Regions from separate parts of the Homo sapiens genome. Here region 2 is linked to region 1. A link means that fine-mapping ties the variant in region 1 to the expression of a gene that starts in the linked region. Tissue or cell type: visceral fat. Region 1 holds a variant in brackets; the other region holds the start of a gene. All regions are shown on one strand. Distances are between the middles of the regions.

Evidence for each region. PIP is the estimated chance that this variant, and not a neighbour inherited with it, causes the effect.
Region 2: it holds the start of CYP27C1, and the variant in region 1 is fine-mapped to the expression of CYP27C1 in visceral fat (GTEx, PIP above 0.99).

The regions. Positions count from the first base shown.
Region 1 is chr2:127,174,435-127,182,626 of GRCh38, reverse strand. No RefSeq gene overlaps it. Among named protein-coding and RNA genes, the nearest start is that of CYP27C1, 42 kb to the left of the region's middle. The variant T/C (reference allele first, on the strand shown) is at 3,888.
Region 2 is chr2:127,216,062-127,224,208 of GRCh38, reverse strand. CYP27C1 (cytochrome P450 family 27 subfamily C member 1) reads left to right here and starts at 3,910. Exons shown (of 9, transcript NM_001367502.1): 1 at 3,910-4,220. The coding sequence starts at 3,939.

The sequences.
Region 1 (8,192 bases):
TTGGGCTATTCAGAATACTTTTTTTTTTTTTTTTTTTTTTTGAGACAGAGTCTCGTTCTGTGGCCCGGGATGGAGCACAGTGGCACCATCTTGGCTCACTGCAGCCTCTGCCTCCCAGGTTCCAGTGATTCTCCTGCCTTAGCCTCCCCGCATAGCTGGAATTAAAGGTGTGTGCCACCAAGCCCAGCTAATTTTTGTATTTTTAGTAGAGACAGGGTTTTACCACATTGGCCAGGCTGGTCTCAAACTCCTGATTTCATGTGGTCCGCCCACCTCTGCCTCCCAAAGTGCTGGGATTACATGTGCGAGCCACTGCACCCAGGCTCAATACATCTTAGGTCACTTCCTGGAAAGAAAAAGTTCTCCAGTGACTTTTAGCCACTGCCACACTCTCATTTAATAATGAAAACATGCAGTCCTGTGTAAAGAAAACTTTGCTTAAAGCTGAGCATCTCTCCTCCCTCAGCTCAGGGCGGTGGAGGCTGGATGCCAGCAGGGCTGGGTGCCGTTGACCTCTCTGTTTCCTGCCTTGCCCTACCCCACTCCCACCCTAGGCTCTCAGGCTCCTCTGGTTTGGAGCTGGGGGAGGAAGAGGAGTTGGGGTGGGACAGGAGCCACTTGACTGATGCCTCGGAGACTTGGCCTGAGCCTCTTCAGCCTGGGCAGACACAGATGCAAAATGGACCCTCCCTCCTGGGGGTTCTTTCTCAGGGCTTTTCCCAAACAGGGAGTCTCCAACCAAACTTACCAAGAAACGGGCAGTGCCTCTCCACCAGGCAGCTTCTTATGACTGCCGGTCAGCCTTGGGCATCCAGGGTCCACTTCTGCTTGGGAGCTAGGCCCCTCCAAGTGCTCCTCCAGGGCAGAACCTAAAACCCTCCCGCTGACTCCCTTGTGTCCCACACTCTCCCCACCAAAGATTGGTGATTGGAAATGGGAGGTCTGGTCACCAGTCTTTCCTAGTCATTTACAGAACAAGAACAATGAAGAGAGAGTGGTACTATAATCTAAGCATCAGAATTGCAAACAGGCAGTGTGACTCAGTCTCGGGGCTCAACTTCTCCCTTGGCATAATACATTTAGAGGGTCCTAAAATTTTATTTTCTTTTGCAATATAAATAGTGTCATACTGTATCATTCCACAACTTGCTCCCTCAATCATTTTAAGTGATTTATTCATGTTGCTACAAGTGAATCTGCTTCTTTAATTTTAACTCTTCACAATATTTCTTGATATTAATATAGCACTATTTACTTACCCATATTCTTGGAAGAAGCCTTTTTAACTAACACTTCCTTTTATTATAACTACTATTATTTTTATTATACTTGTATAGAGGAAAACTTCAAACAACCACAAAAATAGAATAATGAACCACAATGTATCCAACCTCAAAATTTTTAACACCTCATTTCCAGTCCAGTTTCATTTCATCACATCAGTATATATCTCTAAAACATATGGATTCTTTTTTTAAAAAAAAACACGTAATACCATAAAAATAGCTAAAAATTTATCAATGATGCATTATAATTTTCAAATATCCAATCAGCATTCAAATTTTCAATTGTCTCATAAATATAAATTTTGAAGTAGTGTGAATCTATTCAAATAATGTTTATTCCTTGAGATGGACTGATTTGTCTCTTAAGTATCTTTTAAGGTTCTCCCTCTCTCCCTCTCTTCCTGTGTCTTTCTTAAATTTTTTTCTTGCAGTTTATTTCTTGAAGAAACTGAATTGTTTTTCCTGCAGAATTTCCCACAATCTGAATGTTGCTGATCTCGTTCCTGTGGTATCATTTAGCATGTTCTTCTATCCCCTGTTTTTCCTGCATATTTGTAGTTAGATCTAGAGGTTACCCTCATTCTAAAATAATTTAGTTGAGTATAGAACTCCATATTAGTGGTTATTTTCTCCCGGCACTTTGAAGATATTATTCTGTTGTCTTTAGACTTTGGTTATTGCTATTGAGAAGTCTGAGGTCATTCTATTCTCACTCTGTAGGCAATTTATCATTTCTGTCTGGCTGTCCTTGCTCTTGGTCTTGAAGTTCTCCTATTTCATAAATTTTAATTATTTTACTTACAGCTCATAGAAAAACCTCCCTGAATTAGAAGATGCATATCCTTCATCAATTCTGGAAAATTCTCAGCCATTTTTTTCTTGAGTATTGCTTTTCTCTGTTGTCTTCATTTACTCATTTAGGAGTTTCTAGTAAACTGGAACTGGATCTTCTGTCTTCATTCTCTGATTTTTATCTTTTCTTTCAAACTTTTCACCTATTTATGTCTCTTGAGTGGCATTCTGGGAAATTTCTTCAATCTAGTTTCCAGTTCACTATTGCTCTTTTCAGCTATATTTAATCTGCTACTAAACATGTCCATCATTTCAATAATTGTTGTTTTCAATTCTATAAACACTATTTGGTTCATTTTCAAACAAGCCTGGTCTTTATCTTAACAATGTCTTGCTCCTGTATCATCCCTTGACTCCTTTTATCGAACGACTGTAAGCATACTTATTTTATAATCCACCTCTGTGTGTTTTGTTGTTTGGAGTTCCCAGGAGTTGAGTTCTTTGGTGCACTGTTGCTTGGACTGTTGCTCACCATGGCTTGTTTCCTCATTTGCTTTGTGGTTTTGGGGCATGCGTCTCTGTTGGTGGAGCTTTACTTGTAGAACATGTGCAGCCCAGACTGAGGGTATGTTCCTCAAAGGAGCTTTGGATTTGCTCTTGCCAGACACCCCAGGGGTGTTAACAGCTTGAAATTGCTATTTTCTTATTATTTCTCAACAGTGGGATTCCTTGACAATGCTTTCAGGCAGGCCTGAGGCTGTGCATTCTCATGGAAACATTTTGAGACAATCTGAGACAGACATAGTCTTTTGTGGCCACTTTTGGTCAATGAACAGATTTTTATTTATTCTCCGAAAGTATAGCCCTTTGATGATCCTCTTTGTGGGGTGGCCTTGTTTCTAACTCCCCTCCTCTGGGCCTGGGCCACATTGCTTGCCTTCATGGTTAGTGAAAACAAGCCCTTTGGAAACTGCTAGCCTCCCCATCCAAGGCAGCCAAAGTGTCAGCCACACTTATACGTTTTTGATTTTCAGTTTTTTCTCGGTGGTAGGTAGAGTAATGCCCCCTGCCCCAAAGATGCCCACATCCTAGTCTCCAGAACCTGAGAATACGCTAGATGGCATGCAAATTGCAGATAAAATTACCATTGCTAATCATTTGATTTAAGATGGAATGATTGCCCTGGATTATCAGAGTGGGCCCAGTGTCATCACAAAGTTTCGTACAAGTGAAAGAGAGAGGCACAAGAGAGTCAGAGGAGATCTGATGACAGAAGAATGGCCAGAGATGCACCGCTGCAGACTCTGGAGATGGAGGAAGGGGCCACAAGCCAAGGAATGTCAGTGGCCCCTAGAAGTGGAAAAAGCTATGGAAATGGATTTTCCCTTAGGGAATGCAGCCCAGTGAGACCTGCGTCAGATGTCTGACCTCCAGAGCTGTAAGATAGTAAATTTGCGTTATCTCAAGCCACTAAGATTATGGTGATTTTTAAATGGCAGGATAGAAAAATAACACACTCTCTAACATATTTGGCCTTCAGTCTTTTTACTTTTCTGTGGACTCGTGCATGCATTTAGAGGGACACATACTTTATCCAGCATGTCTAGGTGTTTTGTAGTGGGAGATTTTAATACCTCAGTCTACCGTATTGCTGCAAACAGAAGCTGTGCCTTAATTTTAGAAAGATGCCTAATATCTTTCATTCTCAGGCTTTTTGTTTGTTTGGGTCCTTCTGTTGTGTTCCTCTTTCTCAATCCACTAATAGTTTTCATCATGAAGTATAAAGAATGAGGGGAAGAAGGACCCCAA[T/C]GTCTCACACGAGACACCTTTTGGGACAAACGTAGATTTAGGCAATGAAGCTTGGATAGGAATGATCTTGATGGGCCAGGTGTGGTGGCTCACGCCTGTAATCCCAGCACTTTGGGAGGCCGAGGCAGGTGGATCATCTGAGGTCAGGAGTTCAAGACCATCTTGCCCAACATGGCAAAACCCCATCTCTACTGAAAATATAAAAATTAGCCCGGTGTGGTGGCATGTACCTGTAGTCCCAGCTACTCAGGAGGCTGAAGCAGGAGAATCACTTGAACCCAAGAGGTGGAGGTTGCAGTGAGCAGAGATCGCGCCATTGCACTCCAGCCTGAGTGACAGAGTGAGAATCTGTCTCAAAAAAAATAAAAAAATAAAAAAATTAATAAAGGAATGATCTTGATGGGTCCCGGGATCTGTGCAGCCCACAAGGACCCTGCCCCAAAGCACCACACTGTGTGTCTCTTGGGATGAAACACAGCAGAGGAGGAGATATTTTAGTCACTGCCAAATGCTTTGTTTTATATACAGGCTCTGATTTATAATTTAGCTCTTATATAATAAACACTTTCCAATAGAACTATACTTAGAACCGCACTGGCTTGTTTCATCTCGGTCTCTCTGCCGAGGGCCCAGATCTGCTGTGGCCAATGCGTGGATGTGGACAGTGGATCAGGAGGCTCCGCAGAGAGGGCTGCACCATCAAGAGAGCCCTGTCAGCCTCAGGACGGTGTGGCACCACCACCGCGATACGCCAGGGACGTGGCGTGGGTTTTAAATGTCAGCTATGTGGTAGGCAATTGTGTTGATAGCACCACATGTGGATTTCTAAATTACAGACTTAGTGAAAACCTAGGATCACCATGTCACTTCCAGAGTGTCTCCTGGTCCCCTCAAGTCTGAGTCATGAATGTCGTACGTGGGATTGGAGCAGCCACGGCAAGTGGGCACCCTCCAGGGACCCCCAAAGACTTCTGAAATTGCCTTCTGTGTGGGGGGGAAATGTGGCCAGAATGTATTTCGCTTATAGCCAAGCTTTTAAAAAGAAAGCAACAGCAACAAAGTGTGTGGGCTTTTAGTAGACATAGAGAGAAGGAGAAGTAACACCCTGTCAGGATGTGGAAGCCATTTCCATCAATAGATGATTCCAGAGGCGCACGGCGGGGGGTGGGGGGGTTCCCTGAGGAGACAACACCCAGCAGCTCTGCCTCTGGAGGCCGTGTGGAGAGCACGGGGAGCACCATCCCAGCATCTGCACTGTGGGCACAGGAGGCTGCTGGAACCAGAGACCCGGATCTGCCCTTGTTATTGTCCCGAACGTCGCTGCTGGACTGTGCATCCCCAGATGCTTCATTCCCTCACCCTGCCTGAAGCTCCCAAAATGAGTAGCAGGACACGTGGAGTCCTCTGGGCTTCTGATGCAGACAGACAGGGCCGGCGTCCGTCCAGTCCTCCATGCTGTCTAGCGCTTGGCTTTGGCAAGCACTCCAGGGCCCTGAGGTCTTTCCTTAAAGACCAGGGATAGCCACAGCCATTCTGCTTGATAAGGATTGGATGTGCTCATGGACACACGGCCTCTGGCACATAGCTGGGCCTCCGTAAAGGGTGCCTCTCTGCGTATCTGCCTCACACTGTTGATGAAGCAGCCTGCCGCAAAGTGACCGCCCAGCCCTATTGCAGTGCATTTAATCCGAGGGTGGGGAAATGGTTTCAGTTCTGAGCCCCAGTTTAGTGGGGTTCCAGGAAGTCATCAGGGAAGCGAGGACTGGAATCATGTGCCCATGAAGGATTGCACCATTACAGAAGGGAGTGCAGATTGGGGAAAATGCAACAGAAGCGGAAATGAAGTCCAGGTCACAGTGGGGACACATGTGGCATGGTGTGCAGGCTTGGGTGTAAATCCTGGCTTCCTCGCTGACAAGCGGCAGGACTTTCTCAAGCGGCTGGACCTCGGTGCCCCAGGCTCTCCAGCTGATGACTACACCGACCTTACACCGACCTCTTGGAGTTGTCCTGGGGTGGTGCCTGGCCCATGGGAAGAACGTTGGGCCTGTTTGCACCACCACTCTCTCTGAGCTGGCTTCCCTCCCTCCTCCCCATCTACACATCTTTTCTCTATCTCAGAGCCTCTGCCGACTGAGCCTCCTCCGACACAGCTCCTTTCTTTCCGTGCTTCTTCCCTTATGCTCCTGACTGCTCCCCGGGGCTTCTGTCTCCGCCTCCTCTCAGCTGTGTTGGAGCCGCTCAGCTCTGCCCCTACCCGGCCGTGTGCTGGCACTGGTTCATGCCACGCTGGCTTGAGGGAGCTGATGGTTCTGTTTTAAGCGAGCATTGAAACAGTCGTGGCAGGACTGTTTACACGATGGAAATCAGTAAGCACTGTTTCGGTGACGTCTGGGCCACACTTCACAGGTTAAGGACACAGTCCCCGTAAGACTGTCTTCCTACAGACTCCAGCCACAAGTTTGGTGGCAGGTCACCCTTGGGTGGCTACAAATTCAGGAATCGGGGTTTGGTAATTTACTGGATAATTTACTGGAATGACTCAGGGAACTCAAGAAAGCACGATGCTTAGGATTACAGTTTTATTATAAACACAAAGATACAAGTCAGAACCAGCCGAAGGGAAAGATGCATGAGTGAGGCCTGGGAGTGTCCCAAACACGAAGCTTCCGTCATTCCCAGACACGACTGTCTTCCCGCACATTGTGTGTGACGGTGCACAGAGTGCTGTCGCCCAGGGAAACTCACCGGAGCTGTGACGTCTGGAGTTCTTACTGGGTTTCATTATGTAGGCGTGGTTGATCGGATCACAGCTCACGGGACTTCATTTCGAGCCCCTCTCCCTTAGCCCGGGTCAGGCTGACATCTCAAAGCCCCAACCCTCTCCTTACACGGTTGGTCTTTCTGGCCTGGTGGCCCCCCATCCTGAGTTACCTTGCTAGCATAAACCATGGGCTGTAGCTCAAGGATCCACCATGAATAATAAGGGTTTAGAGGCAACCTCCCAGGACCTAGGGACAAGGACCAGCCAAACTGTCAATTACACAGCTACGAATCAGCGTCCACTGCCCCTCCCCTGTGTTTCCATTCCTGTCTCCGAGAGCAGGCCCCGGACAGGCCAGACTCATCTTTTCCTAGCATGCAGCATCACGAACTCTAACAAGCCTCTGGCCAGGTGCCACCCCGCCCAAGCTGCTGGAGAAAAATTCACCCTTTGCCTCTCCTCCCATGGGACCTGCCCTTCTCTTCTGCTCCCCTACCCCGCATTTAGTGACCTGAATCTCTGGCTTTCTATTTGTCCTTGCCAAATGTTATCTTTGCTGGTTTTAGCCTGTTCTTCCTCCTGTTGGATCATTTTTATATCCTGGATTTGTTAACTCAGACATGGAATGACTGCATCGTGCTGTTCACAGTTTTGGCAACTGCAGTTCCCATGTTTATGTAAGTCATTTGCAAGACCCTCCGTAATCAGTTGCTACAGCCCTCCCAGCCTCTGGACAGGGGTTTGAGCCTGTTGTTAATACATTGTCCCTACACTTCACTGCTCTCAGCCCTCCTCCTTGCCGAGTCTCCCAGGCCTCACACGTGCCTAGAGGATGTCTCCAGGGTTACTGCTCCCAGACCACGTGTGCAGGCCCCACCCACTGGCAGCTCCCACAGCCCAGGGCATCCCTGCCTTGCACAGTGAGACCTGTCGTCTCTGCCTTAGACGGAGCTCGGTGGAGCTCTCCTGGGTTTGGTGCAGAAGCAAAAAGGAGGCTCCTCTTTCCCACCCTGAGTCTATCTTGTCTCCTCACCCCCTGTCCTTGAAAGGAAGGCGTAGACACCTTTCCTCCTCTCCACCTCTGCCCTAGGGACTTGCACACACTTTTCCTCAAGAGCCTTCTCTGGGGACTTCTCTGGCTGCACTTGCCCACCGCCTTTAGTTTCGGACAACCACAGCTGAGGAGTGCCGCCTTTTGCTGGGGCTTGCTGTGTCCCAGGGACATTTTCCTCCTTTCTGTCTCTCAGTCTTCACCACAGCTCCCTGAAATACTGTTTTTACCCCCTGTTTTTAGATAAGAAAACAGAGGCTTGGAGATAGTAAAAGCTCACTCAAAACCGTCATGAGCATACATCACAGGTCTAGGTTTGCATCCAAGCGGTCCACACATTCAACAGGTGTTTAGTGAACACCTATTGTATGCTGTCTGCCTCTGGAGCCCTCGTGCCTTCTACACCACCTGCCGCCTCTCATGCTGCTGAGGACCCAGGACTGGTGGGAGTGCCAGGTGGGAATGGGAGGGGGTGGGTGGGTGCCAGGGC
Region 2 (8,147 bases), 42 kb before region 1:
ACAGAAAACCAAACACTACATATTCTCACTCATAAGTGGGAGTCGAACAATGAGAACACTTGGACACGGGGAGGGGAACATCACACACTGGGGCCTGTTGGGGGTTGTGGGGCAAGCAGATGGAGAGCATTACGACAAATACCTAATGCATGTGGGGCATAAAACCTAGATGATGGGTTGATGGGTGCAGCAAACCACCATGGCACAAGTATACCTATGTAACAAACCTGCACGATCTGCACATATATCCCACAACTTAAAGTATAATTAAAAAAAAAAAAAGCCTTAGGCTTAATATCATTAGAGCTTGAGGCAAATTTCAAGAACTACTATCTTTGTTTATTTATTTAATTATGGAAACTAGCTTCAGACATCAGCAGAGATGATATCCTAAGACACAGGAGAGCGGGGGAGCTGCAGGGAGCTCCAGAGAAGCCTGTCTCCATGTGTGTTTAAATCTTTCTTCCCCCTGTCTTTCTCTGTATTCTTCCTTCTCCTCTTCCTTCCTTTCTTTACTGCAGTCTTTTCCTTAATTAGCCTTCATAGAGAACCAGCTGCCTTTAAAATCATTGTTTACCTATATTGAACAGTTTAATATATGATTATTTAACAACCATCAATCATTGTTTATCTATATTGAATAGTTTCACGTCCAGAATGGAATGAATTGACTTCTACATATGCGGTCCTTTAATGATTTCTTAAGGACCAGTAGCCCTCTGCAAAACTTTAAAAGCCTCTCCTAGAGCAAGGCGATTGTGCCATTCTTCATCCTCTGCTGGCTAGCCGTGTTGCCACCCACTTCTGCCTGCTAAACGGCTCCTTTCCTCAATCCCTGCCTGAGTGCTACTTCCTTCAGGAGGACTTTCTTTTGCACTGCTCCATCCTACCCTATAACTAGATGTGATCGCTTCTTGCCACAAATTCCAATCATATTCAGTCCAGTTTTGTGACACTTATAGTAATCTGGCTTGTATTTGTGTACCTGTTTTATTCTTCAAATAGGTTATGGCCTCCTAAAGGCAGGATCAAAGTCTTACTGAGTACTTTGCAGCTATCATGCCTTATAATTAAGAGTTGCAAGGGCCGAGTGCAGTGGCTCAAGCCTGTAATCCCAGCACTTTGGGAGGCTGAGGCAGGCGGATCACGAGGTCAGGAGATCGAGACCATCCTGGCTAACACAGTGAAACCCTGTCTCTACTAAAAATACAAAAGATTAGCCGGGCGTGGTGGCGGGTGCCTGTAGTCACAGCTACTCCAGAGGCTGAGGCAGGAGAATGGCGTGAACCTGGGAGGCGGAGCTTGCAGTGAGCCAAGATTGCTCCACTGCACTCCTGCCTGGGCGACAGAGCCAGACTCCGTCTCAATAAATAAATAAATAAGAGTTGCTGAGTACTTATTAATCAAATTCTTTTCTTTTTTTACAGACAGGGTCTTGCTCTGTTGCCCAGGCTGGAGCACAGTGGCATGATAATGGCTCACTGAAGTCTTGACTTTCTGGGCTCAAGCAATCCTCCTGCCTCAGCCTCCTGAGTAGCTGGGACTATAGGCACACACCACCACACCCAGCTAATTTTTTTATTTTTATTTTTTGTAGTATCCAGGTCTTGCTATGTTGCCCAGGCTGGTCTTGAACTCCTGGGCTGAAGCAATCCTCCTGCTGTGGCCTCCAAAATTGTTGGGATTACAGGCGTGAGCCACCGCACCTGGTGTTATTAATCAAATTCTGTAAGTTGAGTAACTATAGCCTTCTTTGCGTCACTTACGTGATACTTCAATTATTCAAATGCAGTGTAGATTTTACAGAGTTGTAAAGGTATAAACTACTCATTAAAAATAAAATATTTAGCTGAGCCGGTGGCCTGCACCTGTAATGCCAGTTACTCAGGGGGAGGATCGCTTGAGCCCAGGAGTTCAAGGGCAGCCTGGGCAACATAGTGAGACCCAGTGTCTAAAAAATAAAATAAAATATTTTTATCTGGGCATGGTGGCATGTGCCCGTACTCCCAGCTCCTTGGGAGGCTGAGGTTGGAGATGGCTTGAGCCCAGAAGTTGGAAGGTGTAGTGCCCAGAAGTTGGAAGGTGTAGTGCCCAGTGATAGTGCCTGTGTATAGCCACTGCACTCCAGCCTGGGCAACACTGCCAGACCCCTCTCTGCTCTTTTTTTTTTTTTTTTTGACGGAGTCTCGCTCTGTCGCCCAGGCTGCAGTGCAGTGGCAAGATCTCGGCTCACTGCAAGCTCCACCTCCCGGGTTCACGCCATTCTCCTGCCTCAGCCTCCCGAGTAGCTGGGACTACAGGCGCCCACCACCACGCCAGGCTAATTTTTTTGTACTTTTAGTAGAGACGGGGTTTCACCGTGTTAGCCAGGATGGTCTCGATCTCCTGACCTCGTGATCCGCCTGCCTCGGCCTCCCAAAGTGCTGGGATTACAGGCGTGAGCCACCGCGCCCGGCCTGCTCTTTTTTGTTGTTGTTGTTGAGATGGAGTCTTGCTGTCACCCAGGCTGGAGTGCAATGGCGAGATCAGCTCACTGCAACCTCCACTTCCTGGGTTCAAACGATTCTCCTGCCTTAGCCTCCCGAGTAGCTGGGATTACAGGCGCGTGCCACCACGCCTGGCTAATTTTTTATATTTTTAGTAGAGATGGGGTTTCACCATGTTGGCCAGGCTGGTCTCGAACTCCTGAACTCAAGTAATCCGTCCACCTCGGCCTCTCAAAGTTCTGGGACTACAGGCCTGAACCTCCCTCTCTGCTCTTAAAAAATAAATGTTGGCCGGGCGCGGCAGCATTTTTTTTTTTTCAAGATTACAGCGTCAGTAATCCCAGCTACTCGGGAGGCTGAGGTAAGAGGATCGCTAGGACCCTGGGGGCGGAGGTTGCTGAGCCGAAATCGCGCCATTACACTCCAGCTTTGGTGACAGAGCGAGACTGTCTCAAAAAAAAAAAAAAAAAAAAAAAAAATGCTTAGTAACAATACGTTGTAAACGGAAAAAAATCTTATTTTTTACGTTTAGATGCATGAGTACCAACGGTATGAAATCTTCAAATAATGTAACTCAGCGAGCAGTTTAACTACTGACTAGGAAAAAGTTCCCTTCCTTGAAACCACATGGCACACCTCTGGCCTTTCCCGTGCTCCATCCCTCCCTGTGCGGCCACTTCTTTGTGCAGCCAGGCACTGGGCTCTGAGTCTAGGTTGGCGGACTCCTCTCCTCGCCTCGGCATGGAGGTGGCTTCTCTTCCCCAAGCCTTGTGCAACAGGACCCGTCCTTGTGAGGGACCAGATAAACGCCCCATGCTCAAAGTCGCTCACCCTCACCTAGTCCTCACTGCTTCCAATGGTGTGCGGAATAAAAGCGATGAGCCCGAGGAAAGCCATCGTAAACGACTGTGATTGTCTTTAAGAAAGCTTGTGGCAAGATAATAATGTGGTCATTTTACAACAGTAGGAACTACATGCAAAATCGTCTCACTTTTTTCCCCCCCTTTGAAAGTTGAGTTACAATAATTTAAGTTGAAACCATAAAGAACTGCTTCTAAAATGCAAAAAAGACCAAAGATTTCTTCAGTATACCTTCAGTAGTCATTTCGAAGGACGGTAATAATTTACAAGATCCCCGTAGACTTTTCTTTTTTTGGCCATGGTTGGAAGTGGGGTTGACCTTAAAACTTGGTGGTTTCAAGGAACGCTTAAGTGTGAATTAATATGATGTGAAGAAATAATAATAGCCTCATTCTCTTGCAGTCTAATCACAGCCTTTTCCCCAGCCCCAGGGGAGGGAGCCTTTAATAAGGGTCTGTGTAAACTGACGCCCCGGCGGCAGGAGTACGGAGAAGCACTGCTCTGACAAGTTAAGACGCAGGAAACAGCAACCCAAAGAGCAGCCCCCGAAACAAAGTTGCTCAGACAAACAAGCCGATGCAGACGAGCGCCATGGCCCTGCTGGCGCGGATCCTGAGAGCCGGGCTGCGGCCGGCGCCCGAGCGGGGTGGGCTCCTGGGCGGCGGGGCCCCGCGGCGGCCTCAACCCGCGGGCGCACGGCTCCCGGCGGGGGCGCGGGCCGAGGACAAAGGCGCCGGGCGGCCGGGGTCGCCGCCGGGAGGGGGCCGAGCCGAGGGTCCCCGGAGCCTCGCCGCCATGCCGGGGCCGAGGACCCTCGCCAACCTGGCGGAGTTCTTCTGCAGGGACGGCTTCAGCCGCATCCACGAGATCCAGGTAGCGCGCGCCGCCCCGGGAGGGAGCCAGCCCGGGCTGCTGCCCAGAAGGCTGACGGCGCGGGCGGGAGGGCGCCAGGGAGGGGCGCGGGGTTGGGGAGTCCCAGGGAGGGGCGGCGGGCAGGGATCCCCGGGCACTGGGCGCCGCGGTGGGTTGGGGGAGCTGGACTGGGGTTGTCCGGTTAAGGTTCGCAGGAAGGGGCGCTGGGGAGAGGACGCCGGAAAGGCGATCCGGGGTGGAGGAGGCAGGAACCGGGAGCGGGGCGGGGGCGTTGGGGAGGGGTCTTCGGGAAGCGGACCCCGGAGAGGGGCAGCAGGCAGAGGGAGCTGAGGAACGGGGCCAGAAAGGAACGGCTGGGAAGAGGCGGGGGAAATGGGTGTCTCGGGAGGTGGCGGCAGGGAGGGGTCCCCTGGAGGGGCCCCAGCCGGGACCCCTGGGGAGGAGGTAGCGGGGAGGGGAGTCAGGGATGGAGTTTCGGAGAGTGGTAGCCCGAGAGAGGCGGCGGGCAGGGTCTCCAGGGACTGGTCCCGGGGAGGGACCCAGGCAGGGATTGCCTGGTTGGGGAACCTGGGGAGGGGGCGCCGCGAAGGGAAACCAGGAATGGGACTGCGGGGAGGGCACCAGGGCTGAGGTCCCGGAGGAGGAGACTTGGGGAGGGGCAGCGGGCGCCTGGTGGACGCCGCCGGGGCCTGGGAGTGGAGAGCTGGCGGGACCCGCGGAGTTGGGGCTGAGGGGGGCTGCTGCCTGGGGCCGGCCCGAGGGGAGCGCTAGGTTCCCTAGCTCCTCTAGGCTCTGCGGAGCTCGGTGTCCTTAGGTGGCCGAGACCGTGTGTATTCATTTCTAGTCCTTTTTGTATTTTGTAATGGCGGGGGAAGAGGGGACGGAGGCTCGGAGGCTCGGGGTGCCGTAGGCTCTAAGCCGGAGTTGGGGGCGACACCTGGAGTTCGCGCCGGGACTGGAGGCAGGGACGTGGGAGGAACCCAGGGGTCCCAGCCACCCGCTAGGGCGTTGGGGCCGGCGAATTCCGCACGCTTCCCACTTGGAGCCTGAGTGCTGTCCTTCCCACGCCCACCTCCGTTGCGCCCTTCGTGGCAGGGGCACTGCACCCGAGCCGCGGCGGCGCCCTCCGATGCCTTCGCCCATCGTCCGCCTCCCCGGGTGCCCGGCCCAGCACGCACTGTTATTTCTGGTATGGGGGCTTTTGGTGTCTTCCGAGAACGCCCCCTTCTCCTCCCACCCAGGCCTGTCCTTCTGCCCAGAGTTCCGGTCTTTCGAGACCCTTCTCCATCGAAGCCTCTTCTAACTACCCACCTGGGCTTCAGTCATTCATTCGTTCCATCAGCCATTCAGTCAATGAACGTGAGGGAGAAGCCCCAACCCTCATTAATGGAAAAACGGGCGTGCGAGGAGCAATTTTAATTCGGCCGGGAATTAAAATTTAATTTAATTTTAATGCCAGGAAGTCCCAACCGTCCCTCCTCAAGTCCGCCACGCCAACCCTATACAGTTCCAAACCGCCACCCCCACCCCAATGCTTAGAGGGCTCAAAAATGATTTTCTTTGTAGGATCTGATAAGATATCAGGATGGCAACTTTCAAATACAGTAAAAAGTGTTTTGTTATTTGCTGTTGATGGGTTCAATACAGCCTGCTTTCTGAAGTGTAATTTAATTTTTCTTTTATCCGCCCCTACTGCCATCTGCTTTTATCCTCATACCTCACCCAGAGTTTGTTCCATGGGCACAGGTTTCTTTGAGACGGACCGTGTTAAAGCCTGTATCCAGTCAGGATGTGTGGCAGTTCAGATGGGTATTTTCCATTCACCCGCCCCTGCCGCCAGCCCTCACCCTGAGCTCAGCCCCTCCTGCCCACTGCTCAGACAGCTTCCTTCACCACACCCAGGGCCCTGGGGCACGGAGCAGAGAGTCACAACTGACTCACTTGCTGCCTTCTCACCAAGCGCACACAGGACCTGGAGAGTAAAAGAAATAAAGGAAAAAGTTCTTTCCCTTTACTCTCCAGGTGGCACTACCCCAACCCTCAAATATGGTACTTGTGGGGACTCTCACCTTCCTGCAGCCCCTCTGAGGACTCCCAATTTCGAACACATGGTTCTAGAAAAACCCTCTCTTCCCGCTCTCCAGGTTGCTCATTGTTCTGTGGCCCATCACATCCAGTTCACTTGCGCTCCCCTTGCAATCACAGAATGTTAGCTAAACAAGGGCTCTTAGTGTTCACCTACATAGCTCACCTCTCATTTTACAGATGGAAAGAGTTGGGTGGTTACCTAAGCGACTTGCCTAAGGTCAGGCAGCTGGTGATTGGCAGAGTAGAAATCATAATTTGGGTCACTAGATGCTATTTAGGGTGTGGTAGAGCAGCAGGATGGCCGAAACAGGAGTCATGTCCTCCAATGCTGGCCCTCTGCAGCCACCTGTGGAGCCTTGGGCTAGTCACTCATTCTCTCTGCACCTCAGTTTTCTCATCCGTAAAGGAGATTAGCAATCGCCATTCCTCTCATGGGTTATGATAAGGTCAAATGAGCTTAGTGTTATGAAACTGTAATAATAACAAATAATAACGATCAGTATTTCTAGAACTCTTTTCATGTGCCAGGCACAGTTTCAAGTCTTACGTGAAACTTATTTCTCCATTTTTTGGGTGAGGAAACTGAGGCATAGTGGGACCTAACTTCCAAAGGTTATTCAGCTAGTAAACTGTGAGCCCAGATTCAAACTCCAGAGTCTGTGCTCTTAACATCCAAGCAAACTCTAAGTACTGTGCCTGACTGTATAGTTCCATGGCCCACCACCAGAAAGTGATGAAAACTATCTGTATCATTTCTACCTCCAGTTCCCTTGTGCTGATTGTACCCAATTCAGTAGCTGGATTTGCTTGAGGAGTGGCCCATTTCCCAGTAGTTCTTGTTACCAGTCATTCCTTCAGTGGGCCCCTTTAGAGACCTGAACTCTTTGGGGGCCACTTATTTGTTAGGCAGAAGTGACCCCTTGGAGATGGACTCATTCCAGTTTAGTCTGAATGTCTTCATTTTCAGGTCTCCAGAAGGAGTGAGTATAAGAGTAGAGAAATGACAGTGCTCCTGGCCCACTGTTTCTGAGATTGAGAGCTGGAGTGGTGAGAAAGCTGGGCAGATACCAAAGAGAGTCTTAGTAACTTTCCCCAGCCCAGCCCTGTCTGTGTCATGCTGAGCCATGTTAGAGGCTCATCACTTTTGTGTTTTAACTGAATAATTTAGTCTATTTACATTTATTGTGATTTCTTTTTATGCAGGGAGTAACAGCTTTCTTAAGATATAATTAACATATCATATAATTCATCCATTTGAAGTATACAACCATCACCGCAGTCAACTTGTAGAACATTTTCATGACCTCAAAAAGAAATCCCATATCCATCAGCTATCACCCCCAACTCTCCTATTCCCCCTGCTTTAAGCAACCACCAAGCTACTTTCTGTATCTATAGATTGGCCTATTCTGGACATGTCATAAGTGGAATCATGTAATATGTGGTCTTTTATGGGTGGTTTCTTTCACTTTAAACATTTCAGTATAATGTTTTTAAGGTTCACTCATGTTGTAGCATGTATCAGTACCTCATTCTTTTTATGGACAAATAATATTGCAGCGTATGACTATACCACATTTTGCTTATCCATTCATCAGTTCATAGACATTTGGATTGTTTCCACCTTTTAGCCGTAATGAATAATGCTGCTGTGAATTTTTGTGTGTAAGGTTTTGTGTAGACATGTGTTTTCATTTCTCTTGGATATGTATCTAGGAGTGGAACTGTTGGGTCAAATAGTAATTCTATATTTAACCTTTTGAAGAACTGCCAGACTGTTTTCCAGAGTATCTGCACCATTTTACATCCCCACCATTATCATAAGAGGGTTCTGATTTT